Linked DNA regions of Homo sapiens: all the other regions are linked to region 3. The links come from fine-mapping of genetic effects on gene expression. A gene starts in region 3. Each other region holds a variant in brackets. All regions are shown on one strand. Distances are between the middles of the regions.

The links. PIP is the estimated chance that this variant, and not a neighbour inherited with it, causes the effect.
Region 1: its variant is fine-mapped to the expression of PALD1 in whole blood (INTERVAL, PIP above 0.99).
Region 2: its variant is fine-mapped to the expression of PALD1 in prefrontal cortex (ROSMAP, PIP 0.95).

The regions. Positions count from the first base shown.
Region 1 is chr10:70,536,906-70,546,615 of GRCh38, reverse strand. PALD1 (phosphatase domain containing paladin 1) reads right to left here. Exons shown (of 20, transcript NM_014431.3): 11 at 8,710-8,805; 12 at 8,208-8,336; 13 at 7,608-7,724; 14 at 7,369-7,524; 15 at 6,854-7,036; 16 at 5,374-5,514; 17 at 5,082-5,153. Among named protein-coding and RNA genes, the nearest start is that of PRF1, 61 kb to the left of the region's middle. RefSeq lists enhancers at 4,231-4,731, 7,653-8,338, 8,339-9,023 and a silencer at 8,737-8,933. The variant C/A (reference allele first, on the strand shown) is at 4,181.
Region 2 is chr10:70,115,842-70,125,523 of GRCh38, reverse strand. It overlaps AIFM2 (AIF family member 2), which reads left to right. Exons shown (of 9, transcript NM_032797.6): 2 at 1,427-1,617; 3 at 2,004-2,119; 4 at 4,313-4,432; 5 at 4,925-5,017; 6 at 7,604-7,712; 7 at 8,750-8,902. The coding sequence starts at 1,440. Among named protein-coding and RNA genes, the nearest start is that of AIFM2, 12 kb to the left of the region's middle. The variant G/A (reference allele first, on the strand shown) is at 6,704.
Region 3 is chr10:70,473,795-70,483,504 of GRCh38, reverse strand. It overlaps PALD1 (phosphatase domain containing paladin 1), which reads right to left and starts at 4,738. Exons shown (of 20, transcript NM_014431.3): 1 at 4,446-4,738. RefSeq lists enhancers at 83-630, 2,124-2,765, 2,943-3,122, 2,766-3,408, 6,953-7,032 and silencers at 4,403-4,852, 5,053-5,122.

The DNA.
Region 1 (9,710 bases), 63 kb before region 3:
GTTGATAAACTGTGGCATAAGCCCCACCAATCCACAACTTAATGTCTTGCACACTACACAGATTTTCAGTGTCCAAGCACATCAATAGAGTTACTAGGAAAACGGGACTGCCACAGCCAAAGACATCACAGAGTGCACACAGTTCTCACAGGAGAGCCACAATCAAGAAGTGGTTTACATTAGAAATAATTCTACAAAAAAAACCATGGGAATATAAGTCATTTAAGATGTTCAAGACATATTAAATGCACGACTGTGACTCCAAATTGCCATTTTGTATGCTTTGTATTACATGATACAAAAACCACCCCAATGCACCCATGGAATGTTAAGCTGATCTAAGGTGCTTATTTTTGTTTTGTTTTGTTTTGTTTTGCTTGAGATGGAGTCTCGCCCTGTCACCCAGTCTGGAGTGTAGTGGTGAGATCTCGGCTCACTGCAACCTCTGCCTCTTAGGTTCAAGAAATTCTCCCGCCTCAGCCTCCCGAGTAGCTGGGATTACAGGCACCTGCCACCGCACCCAGCTAATTTTTGTATTTTTAGTAGAGACAGGGTTTCACCATGTTGGCCAGGCTGGTCTTGAACTCCTGGCCTCAGGTGATCCACCCGCCTAAGTCTCCCAAAGTGCTGGGATTACAGGCATGAGCCACCACGCCTGGTCGAGGTGCTTATTTTTTAAGCAGTAGAAATCCTGCTTCAAATGAGGCCTCATGCAGAACTTTGATCTATAAAACAGATAGCTGTCACGTACTAGGGCTGGAGGGGTGAGGAGGGGGTGTAAGAAGCCTCCCCACCCTCCTCCTAACCTGCAGCAGCCCCCAGCCACTGCGCAGACGCTCAGAGTTGGACACCACTCATCTGATATAATTCCCCACCCCAGCCAGGTGCAGTGGCTCATACCTGTAATCCCAGCACTTTGGGAGGCCGAGGTGGGGAGATCGCTTGAGGCCAGAAGTTCAAGACCAACCTGGCCAACATAGTGAGACCCCATCTCTGAGTAATAAGAAAAAGAAAAAAGAAAAAAAATGATATAATCTGCCCCTTACTGCTGGGAAAACTGAAGCCTGTTTAGGTTACTCTATGGCTTTTCCCCCACAGGCCCTCCCAGCCACCCTGTGCTGAGTTCCCCTCCAAATCTGTCTACACTGCACCTCTCTACAGCTGGCACCTGATCCAGACCCCCATCCCCCTTTGCCTCCACAGCAGTACCCTTCTGACCAGCGTCTCCACCTCCTCCCCGCCCTCCCTCTCCCTGGTGGCCAGAGAGGTCTTACGAAAGTATAAATGTGAACCCATGTTGTATAATCCCCGGGCTTTGATCTCTTCATGGCTCTCTTACACTCAGCACAGAAACTGGGGTCTAAAGGCTCCCCGCACCACTGGGTCCAGCCTACCTCTCCAGCATCACCCATAACCCCTCCCACCACCTACCCCCACCACCCTGCAAGGTCCCCACAGCGCCCTGTCCCGTGGTCGACAGCCACCTGCTCATCTGCTTCCACTTTCACACCTGCTCCCCACTAAGTGAGGGGCTTTCTGCCGGCACCTGGAGTGGTGCCTGGCACCTGCCCGGTGCCCCAGCATCAGCTGCCCAGTGAATGAATGAACACCTAACTCGCTCTCTTCTCTCTCTGGCTGCCACTTAAGAACAGGGAAGGGCCTTTCCCCAACTCCTGCGTTTCTCAGAGTCCTGGCCTGGTGCTGGGCACCCCAGCAGGCATGGAGTTGCAACCAAGTGGGAGGAGAAAAAGGAACAGTCTGGAAGGAACTAGTGGCAGATCTGGCTCAGGCTGTGCCCAGGGGAGTAGGAGGGAGCTGTCCAGTCCACATCCCCAATCCCAAGCTCTAGGCAGGTCCCCAGGAGGGTGCAGGGAACTGCGTCCTCTGGGGGCCACCTCAGACAGAGGGCTGCAGCTCTTCACAGGGAACCCAACTCCTGGCCTCTGCTGCAGCTGTTCCTCCCCTGAATTCCACATCGACAGCTGTCACTACTGCAAAGCCAGAAACTCGAGGTCATCCTAGGTGCCCTCCTCACCCCACATCCAGGAGCCCTCAAGACCTACCAATGAGGACTGGGCTGCTCCTGCTCACCCTGCAGCCCCTCCTCACTCAGCTCCTGCCTCTCCCTCCACTCCCCAGTCCACATATAACTGCCTGCTGGGGCCCCCAGACTGAGAGCCTGATCACAACCTCCTCTGCCTCCCTCCTGGCCTCACGGTCAAGGTCAAACACATAGTGCAAACCTCCAGGGCCTTCACAATATGGGCCCCCACCCCTCAGTCCTGCCTGCTTCCCTTCTGACAAATCACAGCCTTACATAGTTCCTGCCCTTTCCAGAATCCCTCCTTTGCACACTTGATCCCTCCAGACACTCCCCTCCTCACCAAGGATACTCACTCATCTTCCCCAAAGGCACTCAAATGCTGCCTCCTCTATGAAGTCCTCTCAGGCTCCCTCAGCTGCACTCTTGGCCCTTAGAACCAGTGTCTGCTCTGGGCCTCTTCACGCTCTATTGATCCTTTCTCCCCAACAGACTGTGGGCTCAGCAAATGCTGAACTAATTGCAAAGGAAGCTGGTCTAGATTATCTGGGGGTGGGTGAGGATAGGGTGTACAGGGGTGTCTTCAGGTCATATGATGTAACTTTGGAACACAGGCTCTGAGGTCTACAGCCTGGCTTATACCCCAGCCCCACCTCTCTGATGTGGCCCTAGGGTAATAAACTTGTCTCCCCAGGCCTCATTTTCTCATCTATAAACTGGGAGCAGTAAAAGCACCTACCTCCTGGGAGCTGGGAAAGGGGACAGAGGGAGTACACACAGCTCCCAGCACGGGGCCTGGTGTGAAGAAGGAGAGGCCTGACCATCACATTCAAGGCACCGATGCAAAGACTAAACTCAGCTGGAAAATAAAACCCTTATACATATGGTCAACTGGCTTTCAACAAGGGTGCCAAGACCCTTCAATGGGGAAAGACAGACTCTTGAACTAACGGTGCTGGAAAAACCAGATATCCACATGCAAAAGAATAAACTTAGATAACCCTCACCTCACACCATATAAAAAAAACTAACTCAAAATGGATCAAAGACCTAAACCTAAGAGTTAAAAACTATAAAAGTCTTAGGATAAAACACAAGGGAGAAGCTTCATGACATTGGAGTTGGCAATGATTTCTTGGATATAGCACCAAGGGCACAGGCAACAAAAGAAAAAACAGACAAACTACATCAAAATTAAAAACTTTTGTGCATCAAATGACACTATCAATGAGTAAAAAGTCAGCCCACAGAATAGAGAACATATTTACATATCACCTCTCTTATAAGTGATTAGTTTCCAGAATATATAAAGAACCAAAACTCAACAACAATCCAATTCAAAAATGGACAAAGGACTTGAACAGACATTTCTCCAAAGAAGATATACAAGTGGCCAATAAACACATAAAAAGATATTGAACATCACTAATCATTAGAGAAATGCAAATCAAAGCCACAATATACCACTTCATACCCAGCAGGATGGCTATTATCCAAAAAAAAAAAAAAAAAACGGCTGGGCACAGTGGCTCCCAGCACTTTGGGAGGCCGAGGCGGGTGGATCATCTGAGGTCAGGAGTTCGAGACCAGCCTGGCCAACACGGTGAACTCCCATCTCTAAAAAAAACAGAAAAAAGAAATCAAGTGTTGGTGAGGATGTGGAAATATCAGAACCTTTGTGTGTTGCTGGTGGGAATGTAAAATGGTGCATATACTGCGGCAAACAGCATGGTGGTTCCTCAAAAAAGTAAACAGAATTACGATAGGATCCAGCAATTCCACTCCTGAGTATATGCCCAAAAGAACTGAAAGCAGGGACTCAGCTACGTGCACTATGCATTTCATAGCAGCATTACTCATGACAGCCAAAAGGTGGAAGCAAATAGTGTCCCTTGATGGAGGAATGGAGAAACAAAATGTGGTCTATCCATACAATGGGATATTATTCAGCCTCTAAAAGGAAAGAAATTCTGACACATATTACAATGTGGGTAAACCTTGAGAACATTATGCTCAGTGAAATAAACTAGTCATAAAACACAAATACTGTACGATTCCACTCATAGAAGATTCCTAGAGTAGTCACATCCATTGAGACAGAAAGTAGAACAGGGGCTGCTGGGAGGGAGGATGGGGAAT[C/A]ATTACTGAATAGGAGAGCAGAGTTCTGTTTTGCAAGATGAAGGAGTTAGATGGGTTGTGGCAACAGTTGCACAACAACGTGAATGTACTTAACACCACTGAACTGTACATTTAAAAATGGTTGAAATGGTACATTTTATGTTATGCATATTTTACCACATAAAGAAAAGGAAAAAGGAAAGAATCAGAGAATCAGCCAGAAGAAGGAAGGGAGAAGGCACCGCATATGCAAAGGCTGCAAGAGCTTAGCAAGTGTGAGGTGCTGCATGGCGGTCAGGGCCTCAGGACTGGGGCGAGGGCAGGGGAGGGGCAAGTGGCGAAGTTAACCAGTAAGACACGAGCCAACTGTGCTGCTGACTGTGGGTCAGCCATGGGCCAACTCCGAGGGACGTTGCCACGACTCTCGGGATGCCTGAGAAGATGGCCTGTGGCATGTGGCAGGTGCACAATACATGGATGACTAAATCTGGAATGTTTGTGGCTGGCCATCCAGTGCCCTAATCTGAAATAGAGGAACAGGCAGGGCAAAGTAGGCTGGGGACCCACACAAGGTCACCAACCACAGCTGGGTTGAAGGTGCTGGGAGGTTGTTATCAACATTACCCAGACAAGACGGTGGCCAGTGACCTCCCCAAGGCACACAGCAGCCCAACAGCAAGGCCGGGCAGGGAGGGGTCCAGCCCACATCTCCATAGCCGGCCGTCTGCCAGGGCCTCAGAGCCAAGCTGTCCCATGCCTTGCTGGGCTCATCTATAAAATGGGAACAGGGAAGCACTGATATGATGAGGTGGCAGACGTGACTGCATTGGGACGTGCTTTGAGGACCCCTAGACCGGCAAGCAGGAGTCCTCCTCCTCCTCCCATCCCAAGGTGCCTCAGGGACCCCGCAGGGCATGCTCACCTGAAATTCACCCTTAGTGAACTTGGCATCAGGCACACTCACGAGCTCCTCCTCACCCACCTCGGGGAAGCCCTGAGGGAAGACAGCTGCTGAGACAGAAGCCCCCTCCCAACGCCAGGAGCCCCTTGCTGGGGAGGACTTGGGGGCTGCCCAAGACTGATGGAAGGGGCTCTGGGACCACACCCGGCTGTCTCTGCCCCTCACACCCTCCTGTGGAGCCAGTGTGCCTGGGACCTGAGTGTCTACCCTCCTCCAGGCAAATCTCTAATCTCACTTGAGAGGCCACACGTACTTGGATGTGCCAGAAGGCCAGGACAGCCACCACCATCGCAGTTGTGGTACGGCCCTGGCCGCTGAGGCAGCTGAACACGAAGCCAGTGCCTGGGTCCTTGGAGAGGGCGGCCCGCAGGGCCTCCAGCAGCTGGTCAAAGTCCTGGACGAGAAAAGCAAGGTCTGGGTCAGCGGGCGTCTCTTGGATGCACAAACCCCAACAGGGTCCCCATCCACATGGCAGCCCCAGCCACTGTCCTCGGGCCAGAAATTGTCAGGCTCCCAAGCTTGCACACACAAACAAAACTCACCGGGGTGCATGAGACCATGTGCGTGTAAACAGCTGCACCTGTGCAGTCGTAATCACCCTCACACCAAGCACCTGGACAGGATGTGTGAGCCAACACAGCATGCACCTGGGGCTCAAGGTACCCACCCTCCATCAGGCAGGACATGCACCTGTATGTCACCCCTGTGTACTGCGCCCCTGGGCTGCACATAGACTGCTGGCCCTGCCACCCACCTGAGCTGGACCCAGCCCTGGTCCCACCATGGACGGGGGCCTGACCTCAGAAGAGCCCTGCAGCACAAGGCCACCAGGAGGCAGCAGACCGCAGGCAGTGAGAGCCGCGAAGAGATGCGCCAGGAGGGGCTCAGGCAGGGTAACAGACCCCATTGCCAGTTACACAGCACACAGCGACCCACCTACAACACACGCACCACGCACACGGTGGCTCACCTACAACACACGCCAGACACACGCACCACACAGGGATCCACGTCCGGTAAACACACACACTATACAGACACCCACAGTCACAGACCTACAGATGCCACACACACACATTCCTAACGACCCCTCCACAAACCCTACCACACACCACACCACTCCCCTAAAGATGGTTTTCCACACACAGCCCCCAATACAGACAAGGGAGACATCACAAACTCCATAAAAAGACATGCACACACACACACATTCCACACACCACCCACACACTCCATACACAGTCCCCCAACTGAGACACACACACCACGGACACCCTGGACATGTTCACCCTCAACACACACACACACCTTATAACAAATACACACACACACCTGTAACAGAATACACACACACCCCGATAACACACACACACCTATAACACACACCCATAACACAATACACACACATACACCCTACAACATAATAAACACATGTACACACATCTTATAACACATATGCACATACGTAACAGAATACACACTCCAATACACACACACCTATAACAATACACACACATATACCCTATAACACATAATAAACACACGTACACACACACAAAGCTTGGAAGGAATGTGAATAAACCACTTGGGCCAAATCGGAAAACCTCGTGAGACCATTCCCGGGCCCCGTAGAGAAGCTGGGGTCGTTTCATTCTCCCAGAGCCCAGACCAGAGGGGAGACAGGGAGGCCTCCTGTCCCTCCCCAGAGGCCTCAGCCTGAGCAGCACCCTCACCTCCTCTCGGGGGGCACAGAAGTCCGGCATGGGGATGCGGTGGTAGGTGAGGCCAGGACAGGCCCTGCGGTGCTGGCTGAAGACCTCCTGCATGGTAAGGCAGGTCTGGAACCTGTAGGTCAGGGGGCCCTCCTTGCCTGGGGGAGGCTCGCTTAGATGGGCCTTCAGCTGGGCCTCCAGGGTCTGGGCAAGGGCAGGAGGGAGGACACAGGCCACTGGGGCAGGCTCTAGGCTAGCCCTGAAAGGCCACAGCCTGCCATGGCCAGGCCTGGCCCTGGCTTCCAGTCCCATCCCTGACCCCCCCAAGCCTCAGGGGTCACAGCCACCCCCCAAAGCCAAGCAGGTTAGCAGAGCACTTTAGTGGGAATCCTGAGTTGGCCACTCCCTGACACTGCTCCTCCCGGGGCCTCAGATTCTCCATCTGTCTGCGGGAGTGTGAGGCCTTCTGAAGACCCTCCCAGGCCACTCCCCAGAAGCCTCGGAGGCAGGGGTGCCTAGAGGGCAGGGGGCCTCACCTCCAGCTGGTCAGGAGCCACAGGGGGCCCAGGCCACCGCAGGCTGTAGGTGTGCCCGTCACACTCCAACACGGCCTCCTCCCGAAGGCTCACCCAGACAACCTTCCGCAGCCTCCTCTTGGCGTCCGTCAGGTAGGCCAGGATGCTCCCCAGGGCCTGGGCACAGGAGGGCCGGCAGTGAGTGCTCAGCCCTCCCTCCCCAAACCCACTGGGGGACCCAGGCCCTGAGGGCCGGTCACCTTGGCGCTGGGCTGGGCCGTGCCGTAGATGGGCATGCGGGGCACCCGCCGGAAGTTGGCCACATCCATCTCTCTGACAGTGCTGAGCGCGTCCGGGGAGACCAGATCGTCCTCCCGCTGTGGGGAGAGCACCAAGCCTGGGACCCACAGCAGCCGACTGTAGCCGCAGAAAGGGTCAGGACCTGGCCCAAGGCAGACGGGGGGTGGGGTGGAACCCGAGCTTCACAGTTTACAAAGCACTCCTGCACACTTGGAGCTTCCCCCGGCCCTGGCAAGAAGAAGTGCAATGGTGCCCACTCTCTGGACCAGGAAGCTGAGGCTCAAAGAGAAGAAGCTGGAGGCAAAGATCATAGAACCCTGCCCAGAGCTCTTGGGTTTGAGACTGAGGAGAAGGTACCAGAACAGCTGCCAAAGCTGCAAATGCTTGCTGGGGCCTAAGCATGACCCCATTCTGTTCACAAGAGGATCCCAACACCCACAGCCTCTCTTCTTCACCTCCTGCAAGGGCAATGCTTACCCCAACCCTACAGGAATCCAGTGTTTAGGGGCCAGGGCCAGTACACAGCCATGCCCACTTCTCCGACTGCCAGTCATACTCACTAGGGAGCCCCTGGCGATGAGGTCCCTCGGAGCCACAGGGCCTGCTGAGCTCAGCGTCACGGGCAGGCGGTACAGCTCAGGGTGGGCACACAGCCAGCGGCTGAAACTGAGGGCAAAGGCCAGCGGGTACTGCAGCCCGAGGCAGAGAGACGAGGAATTCAGGGGCACAGGGCCATCCTGAACCCTCCCTGCCCACACCATGGCAGGGGAAGCCCCAAAAGATATCCAACATGGCCCAGAGCAGGGACAAGGGAGTGGCTGAGAGAAGACCTGGACGTCTGGTGTCCTGGTTAAGGACAGAGACAAGGGCCCGGTGGAAAGAGGTGGGGCCTCCCTATGCCCAGCTGCTCAGGGACTACTCCCGAATCTGGGTCTCTCCTGGCCTCCCTTCCCTCCCCGGTTCCTTGGGGGGTCTCCCTCCACAGCAAGCCAGTCACTGCGGTGGGGAGGCTGGGAGAGGCCCAGGAGGAGGGGACGTGGGTCTGCTCCTCCCAGGCCCCACCTGCTCATGAAGGTAGTAGTTAAACAGGATCAGGTAGAAGTATCGCTCCAGGCTCCACAGCGCCCTCTGCCAGACGCTGTGTCGGCTGCCGCTTCCCTGAGAGAGAGGACAGGGTGTTAAGGACAGACTCCTCAGGCAGTCTTGTCCCTGTCCCCATCCCTGCAAGGGCAGGAGTTAAGCCTTGGAACTCCCCAGAAGACAGTCTTTCCCTCCCTTCATGACACAGTTCTGCCAGGCTGTAAGTTCTTCTAAGTGTCTCACCCTATCCCAGATGCTGTGGTTATCTGCGGTCAGGGGAGATATGTGGGTGACCACACCAGGCACTGTGGTTCTAGGTGCAGGGCTGGTCTCCCCAAGCAGGCTCCCAGCGCCAAGACAGGCAGGGGCTCCCTCACTTAGCTCCAGCGACACCCAACAGGTCAGGGTTGTGCACCCTCTGTGTTGAGGAAGCCAAGTGTGTGAACACCCCCGAGCCAGAGGCCCTCCCTTAAGAACTGGAACCTGGCTGGGTGCGGTGGCTCACGCCTGTGGTCCCAGCACGTTGGGAGGCTGAGACAGCCAGATCGCTTCAGCTCAGGAGTGCAAAACAAGCTGGGCAACATGGCAAAACCCCATCTCTATAAAAAAATACAAAAATTAGGCATGGTGGCACATGCCTGTAGTCCCAGCCACTCGTGAGGCTGAGGTGGGAGAATCGCTTGAGCCTGGGAAGTTGAGGCTCCAGTGAGCTATGATCTCACCGTTGCACTCCAGCCCAGATGACAAAGTGAGACCCTGTCTCAAAAAAAAAAAAAGAACTGGAGCCTCTCCACAAGAAAATACAAATACAAAGACCCTCACAGCAGTGCTCCAGGGGAGCCATCCTAATTACTCCTAATTTACAGAGGGAAACGGAGATTCAGAGAAATGAGGTAACTTCCTTAAAGTCACACAGCTGACAGCAAACAGAGCCAGATTCCCCAAGTCTCCTGACCCCAGCCCAGCTTCCTCTGCATGGGGGG
Region 2 (9,682 bases), 360 kb after region 3:
ACCTCGGCCTCCCAATTAGCGGGGCCTATAGGTGCCCATCACCACGCCTGGCTTTTTTTTTTTTTTTTTTTTTTTTTTTTTTTTTTGTAGAGACAGAGTCTCTCTATGTTACCCAGGCTGGTCTGGAACTCCTGGGCTCAAAAGATCCTCCTTCCTCAGCCTCCCAAAGTGCTGGGATTACAGGCGTGAGCTGCTACACCCAGCCCCATCTCTACAAGTAATTAAAAAATTAGCCAGGCATTGTAGCATATGGTTGTGGCCCCTCCTTCCTACTCCATGATCACAGTCTTAGTTCACACCACATTTGTCTTAGTCTGTTTTCTGCTGCTACAGCAGAATACTACAGACTAGGTAATTATAATGAACAGAAATGTATTGGCTCATGGTTCTGGAGGCTGGGAAGTCCAAGATCAAGGGCCCAGTGTCTGGTGAGGGCCTTCATGCTGAGTCATCCCATGGTGGAAGGCAAAAGAGAGAGCGAGAGAGAGGAAGAGCTTGAACTTGCAGCCTCAAAGCCCTTTTATAATTGGTATTAATCCATTCATGAGGGTGGAGACCGTATGACCCAAACACCTCCGATTAGGCCCCACCTCTTAACACTGTTCCTTTTTGGGAGACATATTCAAACCCTAGAAGCAGAATTTTGCAGGATTCTTGTCGTAACCTGCTAATTGACCTCCTTAGACCTGGACCTTAAGTTGGTGACCTGTGAGCTGGGCTGAATCTGGTTGCGGTGTTTGTTTAGTGCAGTGCTTAAAGAATGTTTTTTGTTGTTCCTTTAGATGTGGCCTATGCTTGCTGGTTCCCCACAGGTGTGCCCACTGTTTCTTGTTATTGCACCTTTTCCCAGCTTCTCACATCATTGACATTGCCCACCTGGTTCTTTGACTTTGTAAGGTCTGCCCTTATAAGGGCAGGGACCATATCTGCCTGTCTGACCACAGGATACACAACACAGAGCATGTCAAAAAGCAGGAGTTCAATTCATATATGTTGTTGAGTGAACATTATTCCCCTCTTCAAAAGTCTTTTTTTTCCTCCTGCCCCACTGCAATCTCTCCCAAAAGTCTTTGATGGAATATATCAAGTAAAAAACAAATGTGCAGAACACTTTGTTTAATGGGTGCAAAAAATAATCGTGATTATAGTTGCATAAACTATCTCTGGAAGGAGTCATCCAAACTTGTTACGTAACAGTGGATGCCTCTGGAGAAGGGAACTTGGTGTTTGGGGAATGGGCTGGAAGTGGGATACCCCCTTGTTCCTTCTGAATTTAATTCAAATTTTATAAAATTGGAGTTTCATTAATCAAAGATTTACCTCATCTAAAAAGGTCAATTCATGATCGAGGCCTCTCTCACTGTGGGTCCTCCCAGCCCTCCCAGCCTCCCTGACTCTGATATGCTCTCCTCTTTCTTCCCAGCAGTGCCTGATTTGAGATGGGGTCCCAGGTCTCGGTGGAATCGGGAGCTCTGCACGTGGTGATTGTGGGTGGGGGCTTTGGCGGGATCGCAGCAGCCAGCCAGCTGCAGGCCCTGAACGTCCCCTTCATGCTGGTGGACATGAAGGACTCCTTCCACCACAATGTGGCTGCTCTCCGAGCCTCCGTGGAGACAGGTAATGTGCTCCCGTCTGGGGCTGTCTCTGTGAGGGGGGTCTTGTCTCTGCTCTGGGGCTTGATTTTAGGGCTGGGGGTGGTTTTCTCCATTTAGGGCCAAGTGCCTGCATTCCACTGTCAGACAAGTTCTGGAGAAGCTCAAGGTCTTTGGTCTTAAGTAGCCACCACAATGAGACCCTAGAAGTAAAAGCTTGAGCTTTTCTGACGGTCTGAGGCCCAGATTGGCATTTTAGGAAGTAGGGGTACCCCAGGCATACCTAATGGCCCGACGCTTTGGTCAAGGGCACCCCTGTTGGTTTGCAGCTCGTGAAAGGTTCTGAGTCACTCTGGCTTCCCGTGGGCAGCCTGGCTCTGCCCTATGACCTCTTCTGTGTCCCTTCCCCAGGGTTCGCCAAAAAGACATTCATTTCTTACTCGGTGACTTTCAAGGACAACTTCCGGCAGGGGCTAGTAGTGGGGATAGACCTGAAGAACCAGATGGTGCTGCTGCAGGGTGGCGAGGTGAGTGAGGGCCAGCCCGGCTGCCAGCTGGCTCAAGGGCCCTCTGCAGGGCCTGGGCGGGATCCTCCAGGGTCAAGAGAGAGCTAGGCTGGGGGCGGTGGCTCACACCTGTAATCTCAGCACTGTGGGAGGCCAAGGCGGGCGGATCACCTGAGGTCAGGAGTTTGAGACCAGCCTGCCCAACATGGCAAAACCCTGTCTCTACTGAAAATACAAAAATTAGCTGGGTGTGGTGGTGGGCGCATGTAATCTCAGCTACTCAGGAGGCTGGAGAATTGCTTGAATTCGGAGGTGGAAGTTCCAGTAAGCTGAGATTGCACCACTGCACTCCAGTCTGGGTGACAGACAGAGACTCCATCTCAAAAAATAAAAATAAAAAAAAGAGAATGCTGTCTGTGAGCCCCAAGCCCTGCCTGGTGCTGGGCAGATAGCGGATTCCTCATAAACAAAGGCTTGACCACAGCAACCACAAGAATATGGTGGCAGATATTTCTTGTGTAATTCCTGCATGCCAGGCCCTGTTTGTAGCCTTTACGTAAGTCTCATGAATGTTTACCGTGCCTCTATGGCGAAGGTGGTATAACTTCATTTTACAGAGAAGCTAAAGGGTTAAATGGCTTGCTTAAGATCCCACAGCTGGTAAGAGACTGAACTAGGATTTGAACCCATGCAATTTTAGCCCAGAGCCCATGCTCTAAAAGCCAGCGTCCCAGACAACTCCCAGGCCTGGCCAGCCCTCGGCTCTGTCTAGAACAAAAAGGCACACGCATGGTCCCACATCCCCCGGATCGGGACGTCACTGGGGCAGAGGTTTCCCTTCACTCATTTGTGTGTTCCCCCACCTCACATGTGCATCATGGAGCCTGGAACACACCTGCCATGACTTCAGCTCCATCGATAAGCTGCCACCAGCTCTGGATGAGTGTCATGTCCAGCCCAGCCCCATTTGGTGTTTGAAGCTAAGGGGGCGTTGACAAAAGGAAACACAATTCCTTTCCTTGATGAGTTGTGATTTCGTGTGACCCAGCCCTTCTTGAATTAATGGGGCCAGATAGTTTCCTGGTTGGAAAGATTACTGAGTGTCCCCTGGTCCTGCAGTCTCCAGCCATGCGTTTCAGAGCCCTGGAAGATTCCATGAGGGCATCTTGGAGGTTCAGGGGAAAGTAGGGGCTGAGTGGAGTCCAGGCCCTCCAGCCCCTCCCATTGGAGCAGCTCTGTTTTTGTCAACTTTATATATTTAGGCTCCAAACAAGATTTCCTTTTCTTTGTTTACAATTTTTTTAATTAAAAAAAAATTTTTTTAATTGTTTTTGAGATGGAGTTTCGCTCTTGTTGCCCAGGCTGGAGTGCAATGGCATGGTCTCGGGTCACCACAACCTCTGCCTCCCAGGTTCAAGCGATCCTCCTGCCCCAGCCTCCTGAGTAGTTGGGATTACAGGCGCATGGCACCACGCCCAGCTAATTTTTGTATTTTTAGTAGAGATGGGATTTTGCCATGTTGATCAGGTTGGTTTCAAACTCCTGACCTCAGGTGATCCGCCCGCCTTGGTCTCCCAAAGTGCTGGGATTACAGGTGTGAGCCACTGTGCCCGGCCTAAAATTTTTTTTATTTTTAATTTAAAAAAATTAAATTATTTTTTAATAAAATATTTAATAAAAATTAAATTATTTTATTATTTATTTTTAATTTAAAAATTAAATTAATATGGGGTCTTGGTATGTTGCTCAGTGCAGTGGCTGTTCACAGATGTGATGCCACTACTGATCAGTCTTTCTTTCTTTCCCTTTCTTTTCTTCCTGGCGGAGGCAGGAGGAGGGTTCTTCTAAAACACCCGGGAGGTTCTGAGCTAACTCCCGTGGGCAGTGTCCTATCCTGCAGCCCTGCCTCCTGCTTCCAGGCACCCCTCCCACTGCCATGCTGGGTGGCTCCAGTTGCCCCCACATTCTCCACGCGGAGGTAAACTCTACTTCCTTAGGTCTTTCCCCAGGTTCTAGTGCCATCCTTTGGGCTAACCAGTGTGGTGGTTTCACCCCCTCCCATGGGGGCTGCCTCGGGTGCCTAGAGGGGCCTCTTTGCCTGGTTTGTCCCGGCTGGCAGGCCGGGAGTAGGATGCAGAGGCCTAGGCCTGCCCTGCCCTGCCCTACCCTCATCTTTTTTTTTTTTTTTTTTTTTTTTTTTTTGGTTTCTCTCAGGCCCTGCCCTTCTCTCATCTTATCCTGGCCACGGGCAGCACTGGGCCCTTCCCGGGCAAGTTTAATGAGGTTTCCAGCCAGCAGGCCGCTATCCAGGCCTATGAGGACATGGTGAGGCAGGTGAGCTGTGCACTGAAGGCATGGGGCAGTGTGGGCAGATGGAAGGACAGCCTTGGGGATGCCTAGGCCTGCAGCTGGGAGGCCACGGGGTTACTCAGAGCTGCTGGCTGTAGCCATAGAGTTGGAGAGTCACTAGGAAGAGACTTTCCTGGGAAGAGACCTTGAACTTGCTGCTGGAGCCAGGATGTGAGCACCCTAAACCTGCTCATGTTGCCCTTGGTATGTCTCTGACTTTCCTCTCCTGGGGCTTTTCACGGGTCCCTTCCACTCCTGTTTTCATAAGGCTCTGTTTTGTAGAGCAGGCTTAGATCCACAATCTTCCACAGCAATTCTGCGAGGTGGGTGGGAGGAAGCACGTTTGGACTCAAAATGTGGAAAGGGTTCTCTGCCCTCCTTTGGCCCAGGGAGCCACACCACAGGCTGAACCAGCAGACAGAGGTGGATGTGTAGGTGTGTTTCATATGTCCCTGTTTCACATGTCCTCTTCTCCAGGTCCAGCGCTCACGGTTCATCGTGGTGGTGGGAGGAGGCTCGGCTGGAGTGGAGATGGCAGCAGAGATTAAAACAGAATATCCTGAGAAAGAGGTGAGCCAGGCTGCCTTGCCTTGGAGCTCTAAGTGGTTGGCTTTTTTCTGCATTATCTTAGGAACATCAGGAATTTGCTCAGGGCAGAGAAGTCTGGAGCTCTATTCACATAAACTGGGAGTGTGTATTTCTGTTTTGTGCCAAGGTGTGATTCTATAGGGGATTTTTCCTGCAGAGCTGGGATCCTGCTGCACCTGACCTTACGGAGCTGCTCAGGGTGTGTCCTTTCTCAAGGAAAGGTCCTGCCCTCTGCTCCAACTTGGAGGATCAAGCCCAGGGGCAATACCTTGCAAAAGCGGAACTTCTGTGTCACCTTCAGAATTCAGGCCTTTGTGATACAAATGTATATTTGATTACCTCTTGCTGGCAACCAGTATTTGATTACCTCTTGCTGGCAACCAGCTTGGACAAAGACACCTTCAGTTGTTGCTTTGGTCTCTGCCTGATATGGTAGCCCCTGCTCTGAGCAGCCCCATGGTGGTGGGGAGCCTGCAGCAGAGCCCTTTCTGCCCACGCTGGGCAATGACTGAACAGCACTGCCTTCTGCCCATGGGTGGGAACGGGGAGGGGACATCAGCCTGCCCTGTTGCTTTCTCATGCTCAAAAGACAGAGATCCTACCGGGCAACCTAGCGAGAAAGAGGAAATCCTGGCACCCTGTCCAGGCTTGGCAAGGGCTGAGTGAGAAACGTCCTTACAGGTCCTCTAGGCGAGAGCTTGCTTGCGGTTGAAGCCAGATCGGCTTCTGAGAGCCATGTGGGGCCTCTGAATGGATCTTTCTTCCTCAGGGAAAGGCAGGTTGGTTTTGAAAAGAAAAATCAATAGAGGATAACTTAATTATATGGCTGTTCTCTGACAAATTGTTGGAAATTATGATGAGTGATTGATCTAGTTACATTCATTCATTTTGATGTATGAGGGTTCTATAGGGAAAAACCAAACTGTTTTTCTCCCTACTCACTCCACACTTCTGGGATAAGATGTGTGGGTTTTTCCCCCACTGACCAATTCTCTGACACCAGCTGGGTGTCCTACGGTTCAATTCAATTCTGACACTACCTGGCGTTAGCGCAGACCCCACAGGTCAAGGGCTCAGTCCCACGATCCTGCCCCGACTTCAAACACCAGTTGCAAGTCCATAGGTCCCCAGCTTACCCACGCTTCTGTCCCACTTGGCTACAAGATAGAGATTCTCATGACTCTCTCCTTGGGTTAAATAATTTGCTAGAGCAGCTGATGGAAGCCAGGGAGACAGTTTACTTGCTGTTGCTGATTTATGACGAAGGATGTTTTAAAGGATAAAAATGAACATTCAGATGAAGGGGCACATAGGGCGTGGTCTAGAAGGGTCCTGAGCACAGGGGCTTCTGTCCCCATGGAGTTGGGGTGCATCACTGTCCTGGCATGTGGACATGTTCACCAACCTGGAAGCTCTCTGAACCCTGTACTTTAGGGATTTTTATGGAGGCTTCATCAGGTAGGCAAGGTTGATTATGACCTCAATCTCCAGCCCCCTCTCGTCACTGGAGCTGAAAGTTCCAGACTTCTAAGCTGGCTTGGTCTCTCTGGTGACCAGCGATCATCCAGGAGCCCATCAGGAGTAGCTTCATTAGAACAAAAGATGCTCCCATCACCCGGGAACATCCAAGGAGTTAGGAGCTCTATGTCAGACCCTCCCATCACTCAG[G/A]ACATTACAAAGATCTCAGGAGCTCTGTATCAAGAACCGGCAATGAGGACCAAATATTAGAACAAATGATTCTTAGTACCCCAATTTACAAGGGTTTTAAGAGCTCTGCATCAGGAACTGGGGGCAGAGACCAATATATACTTTTCTTCTTATTTCACAGGGGTCAGACCAGTCTGAAGTAGTAAAAAAGTTCAAGTAACTCAGTAAAATATCCACATGTTTAGGATTTGTAGACAGTAAGGGTAGTAGCAGCCACCCTTTATTAAGGACTTAATATGTGCTGAGTTACATGCTTTGTACGTATTTTTTTGCTCATCATTACAAAATTCCTATGAGTGGGGCTATTGTGCCCATGTTAATGAGCCTTTGGGAGGTGTCCAAGTGAGTATCAGAGATGGGATTTCAACCCAGGCAATTTGATACCAAAGCCCAGGCTTTGAACATGATTGCAACATGAGGTGCCCGGGACGCTTCCCTGTGTTGTCCCAGACAGCAAGTAGACATGCCTGGAAGCACTAATTTTAAACAAGCTTTAATGTTGACATCAGTCTGATTGACTGTTGGAATGCCCATGGCTTGTATAATTATAAGTGCCCAAGGATGCTTGAAGATAATTTTCCAGGTGGCCCTAGGTGAGGTGTAGGTTGTGACATGTTGGCATATTGGTAGTCCTCTGGCCTGGGTGTGGCAGGAGGGTACTGAAAGAGTCCTAGTCTAGAACATGTGGGCTTAAGCCCAGCTCACCACTAATTGGTCCTGGCATTGGACAGATTACTTCTCTGGAGCTTCAGTTTCCTCATCTGTAACCTGGAGGTATGAGTGGAGGTGGACGTTCGTGCAATGATTGTGTTTGAAGACTTGGGGGCTCCTTCTCAGGCCCTGTGGTCGTTTTGTCCTCAGGTCACTCTCATTCACTCCCAAGTGGCCCTGGCTGACAAGGAGCTCCTGCCCTCCGTCCGGCAGGAAGTGAAGGAGATCCTCCTCCGGAAGGGCGTGCAGCTGCTGCTGAGTACGTGCACCCTCACCTCCCTCCCTGCCCTGCCCTGGCCTGGTGAGATGTGGCTTGGAGGCTTGGTGACTGCTTCCAGCAGGAGGGTGGCTATGGTCCACCCCAGGCTCTCTCTTTTCCACTGTGTCCTGGGGTGGAGCATGAAGCGCTCAGAAGAGGCCGTGAACATCAAAGCCCATCTGAGCCTTGTCCAGCTGGAAGTTGTGCCCGTCCCTGGGCAGGGAAGAGGGCCTGGTACTTACGGGATTTCCATGTCCTGGTTATTGCTTTGGATGCAGTGCAGATGGTGGGATGCCTGTCTGCTGAATGATTTTTCTTGAGTGCATCTGAAGGATTTGCCCCAAATAGGATGTCTCTGTGGTTGAGGGAATAGGTTTATTGGTTTATGTTTTGAGAGTGGTGAGGAGTGTGGCCTTCTTGTAGAGCAGGGGACGAGACCCACCCAGCAAATGCTGGAAAGTGAGGTTCTCTTCCAGCGCTGTGGCCCCTACACTTCACTGCATGGGGCCCCAGCCCCCTCACTGTTTGCGGGAGGGTGAGGCACCTGTCCTGTGAAGGGCCCGCATGGCTGCCTCAGCCTCCTTTTGGTAACTGGCTGTGGAGTGCTGCCGTCACTGTCACTTTAGGCAGTGAGTGTAGCGAGCTGGCTTCTCTTTCTCTGGCTTTCCCCTTTGTCGTGGTGCACTTGGAGCGCTCGTCCTGCCTAGTTAGGATGGCACGGCTGGCACTCATAAGAGGCGCGTCTGAGATCTTCCATTAAACAGCTTTTCTGAGAACTTCTTGGGAAACAGCCTCGCTTCCCTCCAGGGGCTTCTTGGAACTTTTCTCCAGAGGGACCCCTCGGGGCCAGATGTCCAGATCAGCTTTGTGGGGCATAGAGTGGACTGAGGGAGGGGCATGGTGGGAAGACAGGGTGCAGCCATTGCCCAGTTGGGCCCCAGAGGTCCAGGCCCTCCCCAGGGTTAGCCTTGGCCTGGGGTCCAGGCTTGATGGGGTCCCTGTCCCCACCAGCCTCCTGGTCATGAACCCCCTTCTAGGTGAGCGGGTGAGCAATCTGGAGGAGCTGCCTCTCAATGAGTATCGAGAGTACATCAAAGTGCAGACGGACAAAGGCACAGAGGTGGCCACCAACCTGGTGATTCTCTGCACCGGCATCAAGATCAACAGCTCCGCCTACCGCAAAGCGTTTGGTGAGCAGGTGCCCAGCCGGGCTTCCCCTGTGCCTCCTTGCTCTCCAGTACCCTCTGAATGCCCTGCAGTGCTTGCCCCCAGGAGTCCACACCTTGCTGCCTTCCCCCTTTCTTCCCAACAGCTCAGACTTTAAATTCAGTGAGGGTCCACCCTTGCTGAGCTCTCCTCAGCTGTGACCATGGCTCGGCCCCAGGTGGCCAAGGTGACCAGAATCTTCTGAAATTAGGGCCGCCCCCTAGTGGTAAGAGATGGGAACAGGCGTCAGAGAGATGACAAAGGTTGGTGGTGTTTCTTTCCCCCTCACCTGAGGACAGAGGAAATTCAGGGTCAGGCCTTCCTCTCTTGGCAGGCGTGCTGCCGCCCCCAAACCCAGATCAAAACATTTGGTCTCTTGAGCTTGGATTGACTGGGGAGTGGGGTTGGTAACATGGCCTCGTTTCTTAAAGCTCAGTATTTGCGTATTTAGCTGGCTGGAGGTGGCAGAGGTGGACTGATGTGTGTTTAAGCCTCCATTTGTGAGCAGGAGACTCAGTGGCCAGGCCTGGTGGTTGCTTTGTGTCCTCAATTCCCTGTCATTTACTCCCAAATGCCCTTCCCTGACAAGGAGCTCCTGCCTTGTGTCCAGCAGGAAGTAATGATCCAATCCCAGGAAAAGGAAGCCAGTCCAGGCTGTGTGTAGCAGTGGGATTGAGGGCTTATAATGGACAGAGATCCCAGAATTTAATACCAAATTGTCCTAATGTTGTATTTTCAAATACAAGTTTTTAAAAGTCCCTTTA
Region 3 (9,710 bases):
CATCCTCTCTCCTTGGGGAATTTCTGAAAGCCCCAGCTCCCTGGGAGCCCAAAGCATTGGCAGTGACACACCCAGTTCCCAAAGATGTTCTCTACTGCCTTCCATGGGTGTGCAGATGACCCAGACACCCCACCTGCCTCTCTCATCAGTGCCCCAGCTTCAGCCCAGGCAGGGGCACCCCTTAAAGCCAAAGTCAGCCCACATGCCAGTTATGGGAAATACACAAAACGCTTCACAAGGGCTGTCACACCTCTGCCACGCTGCTCTTTCTGCTGGGGAAGCCTTGCCCTCCTCCTTTGCAAACTCCTGGCCATCCCTCAAAGCCCACGTGAAGTATCACACACACCCCAGGCCAGCCATTCCCTCCCTCAGGCTCCAACCATAACTAGCACAGACCCCATCACAGAACCAGACATGGTGTCTGCATGTACCTCACTCACCTCCTGGCAGGGACAGAGTTTAATCTACCTTCGGAGCCCCTGCACCTCATACTGAACCCAGGGCCAAGAAAGCTCAGGAACCCACATCAAGATGCCACGCTGGTCCCTTCCCACCAACTGGTCCTGTGCAAGCATCCTGGCCTCTGCTGAGAGAATAACATCGTGGTAATAACATAAGCACCTAATGTTTACTGAGTACTTCCTAGGAGCCAGACAGCCTCGGAGGCTCTCTGCGATTACCTCCTTTCATCCTTGTGACATTCTCATAAGGGAGTTGCTATCCTTAACCCTGTTACACAAGGGACTTGAGGCACAGAGAGGTTAAGTTTCTTGCCCTGGGCCACATGGCTAATGAGGGAGGGAGCAGAAATTCAGACCCTGGTAGTTTCTTTCCAGAGCCAGTGTTCTTAATCACAACAGGTCTATTTGCAGGTAGGAAGATGGTCGAGGCAGATGTGTCAGGAAAAGCCCTGAGTGGAAAAGGAACTCAGGGATTATAAAGGCCAGTGCTTCCAGACCTTCTCTTTCCCCGGGTCCCAGCCAAAGGCCTCGGAAGACAAACAGAGCCTCCTCCCAGACTAAGCCTGCTGCTCCCAGGCTCAATCCTGTGCTGAGCACCAGTTACAGGAAACATAAAAAGTCCATCTGCAAGTGCCTTGGCCCAAGACAGGGGCAGCACATGGCTGGGCTGCCCTCTGGGAAACGAAAGCCATGATTTGGGACTATTCTTAGCAAACACTGGCTCCCCTCCCAGAGGCCCAGCAGTCAGCAGGCCCAAGCTTCCATACGCCCGCCCAGCCTGCCATTTCCTGACCCCGTGTATGGAGGTCCCACAGGGCTAAGGAGGGACTAGTGGGCACCGACTGAGGACAAAGCCCTCCAGCTTTCACAGGAGAGGTGCCTGGCCCACCCAGCCTGCTCCAGACCTCACCCAGAGGCCCAGGGCCATGCACCTGGCTGCTGAGGAAGCCCTGCAGAGTCCTGGCCACAGGGGATGGCTCATAATCAAAGGCCCCCACCGCCACATCAACTGAGCACTCACTCCATGCCATGCACTGGGCCACATGCTTTGCACTGATTTTCTCCCACTGAACCCACAAGGAGGTAGAGGTTACTGACCCCACTCTAAAGATGAGGAAACCAATACATTAATTGACTTGCTGGAGGTTGCATGGTGCATTAGTATCAAAGCATATCTAGAATCTGGGCTGTCTCTCAGGTGCCAGGTTGGGCAGAGGAGACCTGAGCATAGCCAGGTGGGGGACCCCTTCCCTGTGCAAGCCCACGGCTTAGCAGAGAAGGAGCCCGCCCCAGAGGGCAGTGGCTCTCATCACAGACGCAGCTACATGTGTGCTCTCTCTCTCACCTGGGGGATCCCTGTCAAAGACCCGCAGGCTTGGGTTCAGAAGGAGAATCCCCAGACAGTTCCTCTCCTATTCTGGTAGGAAAGGAACAGTTGGAGCACCCTACCCAGGCCACACAGCCTCACTTCAGGAAGCCTCTGGAGATCCAGGGAAGATGAGAATCAAAATTCAAAGAGCACCTGCTGGCACTTAAGGCACAAACACAGCCTTGTAATGCAGAGGTGGAGAGGCCAAATGACTCTGAGTAAAACACAGGAGACTGAGCTTTTTGGGGTCCTCAAACCCCAAAGTGAGAGTCTAGAAATAAGCTCCACCACAGAGCACCTGTACCATCACCACCCCAAACAGGACAACTTCCGGGCACTGTGCCACGCAGGGAAACAGTGATAACCAGGCAATGCACGCCTCGGCCTACCTCTCAGAACCCACCTGTGTCTGGTTCCTGGCCTCTGCTGTCCGCTGGCTCTGGCAAGCATATGTGTCTGTGCCCCCCAGGAGCTCACAGCCAACTCCATTCTGCCCAGGCACTTGAGCGGCTTCCCTGTGGCTCCGAGTCTTTTGTCTGGGAATGTCGGTTCCCATCCCCGTCTGTGCTCTGCTGGGTCTACCTATATGTCTGTCCACTTACATGTCTGCCTCCCATGTGGGGAGATTCAGATCCCAGCAATGGTGTATTTCTATGTACGTGTCTGCAGCCCATACGTGGCCCACGCTGATGGGTTCATGTATGTCTGTCCCCGCACATGTCTGTGTCCCTGGGTTGTTTGCTCACCCCCACCATCCTCCTGTGTCTGTCCTCAAGTATATATGTATCCAGCTCCTCTACGTCTCTGCCCACACAGATGTAAACCTGAGCACACACACGCACTCACGTCTCTGCCCACACGGGGCATCCCCCACAGGTGCCTGGGTAACCCAGGTCTGTGCACCACCTGTTTGGAGGCAGGCAAGTGTGTTCACACAAGTTCTCACAGTGCCAGCCAAGGGCTTCGGGTGAGCTCAGCAACTCCCACTCCCAGAACTGCACCCAAGGCCACGAGCATGAGCACACTGCCACCTCCACGAAGTGCTCCAGAAAAACAGAAACCTGCCAGGGACAATGAGGGAGGGGGCAGGGCCCCAGATACAGCAGAGCCTCACAGAAGTGAGGTCAGAGCTGTGCCAGGAACCACCCACCTCAAGCCACCTGGGCCCTACTGTGCCCACCCCCAACACTGGCCAGGAAAGGGAGGGGGGTGCATGCACCACCTGGGGTCTGTCTGCACTCATAGGAAACTGGCCCAGTGCCTGCCAGCCTCCCGACCTACCCCAACCCCCCGCGACAGAGGCTCTTCAGAAAGGAAGTGAGGACTTCCTCCTGCTTACCTCTGAACCTCCTACAAGGCTGGCTCTAGACCCCAAACCCCAGGAGCCACAGGGCAACTAGGAGTGTCCTGTGCTCAGCCCAAGCCAAGAAACCAAATGGGTTATTTCAGAAATCCACCAGCAGGAAACAAACAAACCTGGGAGTGGGTGGGGATGAGTGCAGGAGAACCTCCTCAGCGCCCCTGCTGCTCCCTGCCCTTGGAGCAAGGTAATAAGGAAGGGCGGGCATGGAGCTGGAACATTTCAGCACATTTGCTTGCTTGCATGGAACTGGATCTCTGCTGCCCTGGCACTCTCGCAGCCTACATTACTCACATAGCAATTAATGGTGTGTAGCCTCTTGGCTTTCCACTATTACCAGTTCAGGACTGGTATTGAAACCCTGTATCGGGGAACTTTGTGTGTTTATGTCCTGTCTTGCCCCCAGGGGCTGAGCCTCCTGAGGACAGAATCCTCCAAATCCTCCTCCATCCACACATTCCAGGGGCACGGCCCAGTGCCCTTCCTGGCATTTAAGAGGTGCTCGGCCACTGGGTTCAGGTTACTCTACCCAGAAGCCAAGGAGTTGGTTCCTGGGCCTCTGGCTGGGAGAGTAGAGATGCCCAGAAGATTCCCTGGGCCATGAAGCTTTACTCCCATCTCTGACAACCCAAGAGAAAGGGCTCCAACCATCCCGGCCACCTTCAGGAGCCGGGTCTCCCATAGGCCACTCTCTCTCTGACAGGTTACTGCCCCTTCAGGAAAACCCTCTGAAACTGAAAAACGTACTCTCCTTGGAGACCCGGGCCTACAGAGGAAGAGGGCCAGACTGGGCCAAGAATCAAAGCCTGTGCCCGCTGAGACTTCTGGACTCGTCCTGGGTCTGAGGGCCTCACGCCCCCTAGAGATGAGTCCCAGGACCCCATCTCGGTCATGAAGCGGCTTCCCTCTCCCCAATCTCCCCCTAACTTCGCGGGAAACCCTAGCTCCTGGCCATGCTCCCAGGTCTGGCAATGAAAAGTGGAATTGTCACCAGGCCATGCCTACACCAAACCCAGGGAACTCGGGAGAGGGGGTAGCCCAGGGTCCAACACACACAACCACCCAGCAACTGCTCCCTGTGAGTCCCTCTTGCCTCCCAGGGACCAATCCTGAGCGGGTGTGGGGTGAAGGCCCAGGACCTCACCTCTCCAAAGGATGGGGAGTTGGTGTCTGGAGCAGCCTCGGGCTGGGGGGTGCCCGGGGGATTCCAGATTTGCCCTCCCCTCGCCAGCCCCAGGGCAGGACACTTCGGTACCTGCCAGCCCGCGGCTCCGGGGGGCATCCGTGCTCCTGCGGCCGGCGTGCTGCGCCCGAACTGCGGGCGCCGAGTCAGGCAGCGACGGGGCGCGCCCGGCGCGCGCTCTGGCTCCAGCTCGCTCCTCCCAACTTCGCCAGCCCATGCGGGGGCAGAGGTGGCTCCGGAGGTGGGCAGGCCAGGCGGACCCGGCGAGGCCACGCGAGAGGGAGCCCGTGCTCACCGGCGACGGGACCTGCGCGCCCCGGCCCGTGCGCGCCGCGCTGCTCCCCAGCGCCCCGCTACCCAACGCCGAGGGGCGGACCCGACCCGGCCGCCAATCACCGCGCCCGCCCCCGCCCGGACCGCGAGTCCCGGCCCCACCGCGAGGGGCGGGGGGCTCAGATTTAAAGACACACTCAGCCCAGCCGCAGCCCCCGGGCGGGAGGAACGCGGGCGCCACGTTCCCCGGCTGCGCTTCCTCCCTCCGCCCGCCCACCCTCCGCGAGGAGGAAAAGTTTGGGGCGGGGGAGACTGCCCGGGAAGCCAGTTCCTCTTCCCTCGTCGCTAGTGCGGCTCCTTCTGGAAGACACCCAAACCCGACATCCAGCCTCCTGGCTGCGAGAGGCAGCAGCGCTCTGGGCGCCACACCCCGTCCCGGACGCCGGCTACCCGCGACACCCGCTGGCCCGGCTTCCCTCGCCCCCCTCTGCTTTACAGCCAGGCCGAGCCTCGGCGGGACCGAGCCCAGCATCCGGGCTCCGGGCCGGCCTCGCTGTGCAGTGCGGCCGGAGCTGGATGATGGTGCGCTCTGCACTTTTGCCTCCCACGTGTCGAAGGGGAGCCCCTAAACAGCAGACGGTCCCCCCAAGCAGGGGCTTCTCCCACGCCCCGGGGTCCTAAGGAAACGCGCCCCTCGGCCCCCAGAGGTGAGAGGGGAACAGCAGAGCAGAGCTTTGGATGGAGAGGGGTCCCTCCGCCCCCACCCATCATGCGGCTCCAGGCAGTGACCCGCACCATAGGCCTGCCCCCCCCACCACTCCTCACCCCACACGCGCGGACTAGCACTAGGCGGCAGCCAGCCCGGCCCACTCCGACGGCCCCGCACGCCCCCGCGAGCACGTGGGTGAACGCACCCACGTGCGTGCGTTCACTCTTCGCTGTGCTTCCTCGCGGAGAGATAGGCTTTGTTGTGGTTGGTGAGTCACTTCCTCCCTCTCGCTGCTCCACACTCGGGAAATCCTTTTTTCTCACCTGTTACCACCTGCCTCACCCCCATTCAGGACTGGAGCTGGATTTCGGCGAGCTGGGGTTGCCCCAGGATGCAGGCAGTGTAGGCCCCACCTCTGTCAGGCTGGAGAGCGCTGGGCTGGGAGAGGGGAACACATTCCCCATGACCCCTAAGAATAACTGAAGACAAGAGAAATCACTCATTGTGGTGGTCTCACCATGTCCCTAGCACCTAGCTCTTAAGTGCCTCGCGAAGTTATAAGGTCGGTACTTTTCTGATCCCTATTTTAACAAATGAGGAAACAGGCCCAGGGAAGACTTGTCCTCAGCTCCATACCTGCTCCTGCGCCACCCAAGGTGTGTGAAAAGGACAGCAGCAGAGAAAATCCCATAGTGGCCTTGGGAAACAGACCTGACCTTCAGAGTTCAGCAGAGCTAGGCTCAAAGTGGCTCACAATTTACTGGCTGTGTGGTCTGGGAAAAGTGACGTAAGTTCTCAGATTCCCAACTTCTACATCCATAAGATGGCTTCATCCTCCTTCAAAGAGGTATTTGAGAAGCCAGTGAGCTGGGCAAGTAATGTCCAGGCATCGTGTGTGGCACACTTTAGGACTCCATCCTGGGCCACAGTTTCCTTCCTTCTTCCTCTTGCCACAGCCCCATATCCCATCCCACCAGCTGTCAGACTCCCCAGCTGAAGCCTGCCATCCTGAGGATGCATTCCAGGATAATGTCCTCTTCTAGGCCAGGACTAAGGTAGGAGCAACATGTGTGTGAGCAGGTGCAAAATATACATTTACATACATGTGCATGTGTATGCACACATGTATACACATACATGCACATATATGTATACAAATATATACATAAACATGCATACCTATAGGGATGCATGCACACATATATACATACAGAAACATAGCACATACACATATGCACATAATACACACATACAAATACACACACTTTGCTTCCCCTCACCCTCCCTGCCCAGCAGATGCTGGGATCCACGGCGGTGTGCCTCTCTAGCTCCCAGAGAACAAAAGCTATGTCCTACCTGTGCCTGACCTGTCTTTTGGCCCACAGCACAGTGCCTGGCACGTCTCCATACATTCATTTGTACTCACCACACACACAGTAGGTGTTCTTGTTGAACCAAGCAGAAAAGCCCAGGACAAAGATGTTCTCAGGACAGCCTGCAGTCACAACCCTTCTGGATCTAACAGTTAGCCTCAGGGTTCAGCTGGTAGGTAGGGGGCTGAGGGCTTGGAGGTTCCTCAGGGTCAGGCCACAGACTGCATCCAAACCACAGTGCCCAGCCTCACCAGCCCACCACCAGCCCCCCAGAGGGCCTGCCAAGTCCCTACTCAGAATAGCGAGTCCTGCAGCCCTGGCTGTCTGCTGGCTATGGGGCTAGAAAAGTCCCAACCACAAGAAAGATTCAGTCAGATCTGCCCCACCGTGGGCCTGGGAGGGGAACAAGGACTGAATGTTGAAGGAGAGAAGGCCACAGAGCAGCCCTGGGTACACCCAAGAGAAGGCATCCTGCTCTCTCCCCAGCCCCAGGCAGAACGAAAGAATCAGTCGAGCCAGCTCTCAGTTGAGCCCATTTGAGCCTCTCAAACTGCAGCAGAAGATTCCTGAGAAATCTGGAAGCTCAGAGCAGAAGCCCAAAATCCCCTGAGAAAAGATTCATGGGTCCCAGAACAGGATCTCAGGAAGGAGAGAGGTCGGGACTGACCCCCACTCACCCAGCACTCCACCAGCACTGCCAGCACCCACATCCCCCACACACAAACGTCCAAGACACCATGTTATCATGCTTGTATTGCTCGTGCGTGAACTCATATTTGCAGGGATCCATGTTTGTGCAAGTGTCTAGTGGGAGTGAGTGTGGCTTTATAAGTGAGCATGTGTGTATGTGTGTGTACGTGTAGCACACACACAAAGCACCTGCAACCGTCCAAAACCAGACAAGCTGCTGCTGCAAAGAATATGAGTAACCTGTTACTCACGCCCCGACAGACTCGCCTGTGGCCATCCACTGCCCCATCAGCCCAAGCAAGGTGCTGGTGCTCTTGGGAGAGAGCTCCCAAGTTCAGTTCCTGGGCAAAAACATGAGCTGTGGGAACCCCAGATTCCCTCCAGGGAACACTCAAGCCAAAAATGATTTCCTGACAGGCACAAATGACTCGCTGGAAAGCAGAGGAGCTGGGTTCAAACCAGCAAAGATGAATCTTGATCAAAGATGGGAAACAGGCCCTTGCTGCTCTTCTCTACTCCCCACTCTTCCCTGACATCTGCCACAGCTGAGGGACACTGGACCTGAGGAGTGGACAACATCAGGACATGGGCTGGCCTTGCTCCTTGTGACCACCTTACTGCCAAGAACAGGGATCATGTGCACCCTTCAGGGTGGGAGTCTTGTGGCCTGTGATTTCGCCCTGAGCCCAGTGGTCTCTGAGCCTCAGGCAAACTCATCCGTGACGCCTGAATCCCAACACAGACGGATCCCCTGTCTGCCCTGGCCATCCGCCCTTCCAGGCCCACTGCCCCATCTCCAGCATCCAGCACTCCCACTTTTTCAGCCCCCTTCTGTGTGCAATCCTAAAGACAAGGGCTTTAAGCAGGGCAGACCTGGGCTTGGATCTAGCCACAGCAACTTTACCACCATGTGACCCCTATGCTACAAGTTACCACATTGCTCCAAGTCTCCTCATTTGTAAAATGATGCAAAGAGCAGTTCTTGCTTCCTGGGAAAGTCTGGAGGATAAAAGGTGCTTGGCACTCAGCAAGTACTTACTGATGACTGCTGTTCCTGTCATTACTGTTGCCACCCAAGCTCACACCATGACCTAGCCCTGAACCTGCCAGGGCAGAGGGGTGTTTGGAGGCTGAGTTCAGGTTCCTCCTCCAGGCAATTTGCCTTGGACTCCTCCCCTATCTGCCCATGGGATCTCTGTCCACTCTGGAATCCTTCCCCTCCCTTCCCTGCCAGGCCCTGGGACCTGAGCATCCCCATCTGGCGCAGGATACATGTTCAGTTATCGGCATCATATTATGGGCAGGATTATTCATTTTATTGATTATATCCTTCTTTGGGTCTAAGCCTAAGGATTACGTCCCCCGACTCCCAAATTCATACACAAGGTTCAAACCTTTTTTTTATCAAGACCCAAAGTAAGAAATACATTTTACACCAGGGCCAGCTACACAGATATGTGAATGTGTGTTATTCACAAAAAAATGCTTAGCCTTACTGCATTGGATGCATCCTGCTTCCTTCCTTCCTTCCTTGGACAGAGTCTCAGGCTGGAGTGCAGTGGTGGTGGCACAATCTCGGCTCACTGCTGCCTCCGCCTCCTGGATTCAAGCAATTCTCCTGCCTCAGGCTCCCGAGTAGTTAGAATTACAGGCGCCCGCCACCACGCCCAGATAATTTTTGTATTTTTAGTAGAGACAGGGTTTAACCATGTTGGCCAGTCTGGTCTCAAACTCCTGACCTCAGGTGATCCACCTGCCTCGGCTGCCCAAAGTGCTGGGATTACAGGTGTGAGCCACCACGCCCGGCCCTCTAATCTATCTTATCCTATTTCTTTTTGTTATTGCTGACTGCAGGGCACTACACTGATTTTGCCCGTGACCTCCAGTTTGAACATGCTGCACAGAACAATGAGGTTCCTAAGAGCAGGGACCAGATCTTGCTCCCCTCCCTCCCCACAGGACCACTTAAGGGCCTGACTGAAGAGCACCCAGGACATGTGGCAGGAGCGTGACTCTAGCTCCAGAACATTCTTCAGGTTCTACAGAGATGCTCCATCAGATCAGGAGAGAAAAGCAGGGAGGAATCCTGGCTCATTCATTCCACGAATATTTCATTCATTTATTTAGTCAGTCAGGCCGGGTACTGTGGCTCACACCTGTAATCCCAACACTTTGGGAGGCTGAGGGGGGGGGGGTGGATCACCTGAGGTCAGGAGTTCGAGACCAGCCTGGCCAACATGGCGAAACCCCGTCTCTACTAAAAATACAAAAAAATTAGCCAGGCATAGTGGC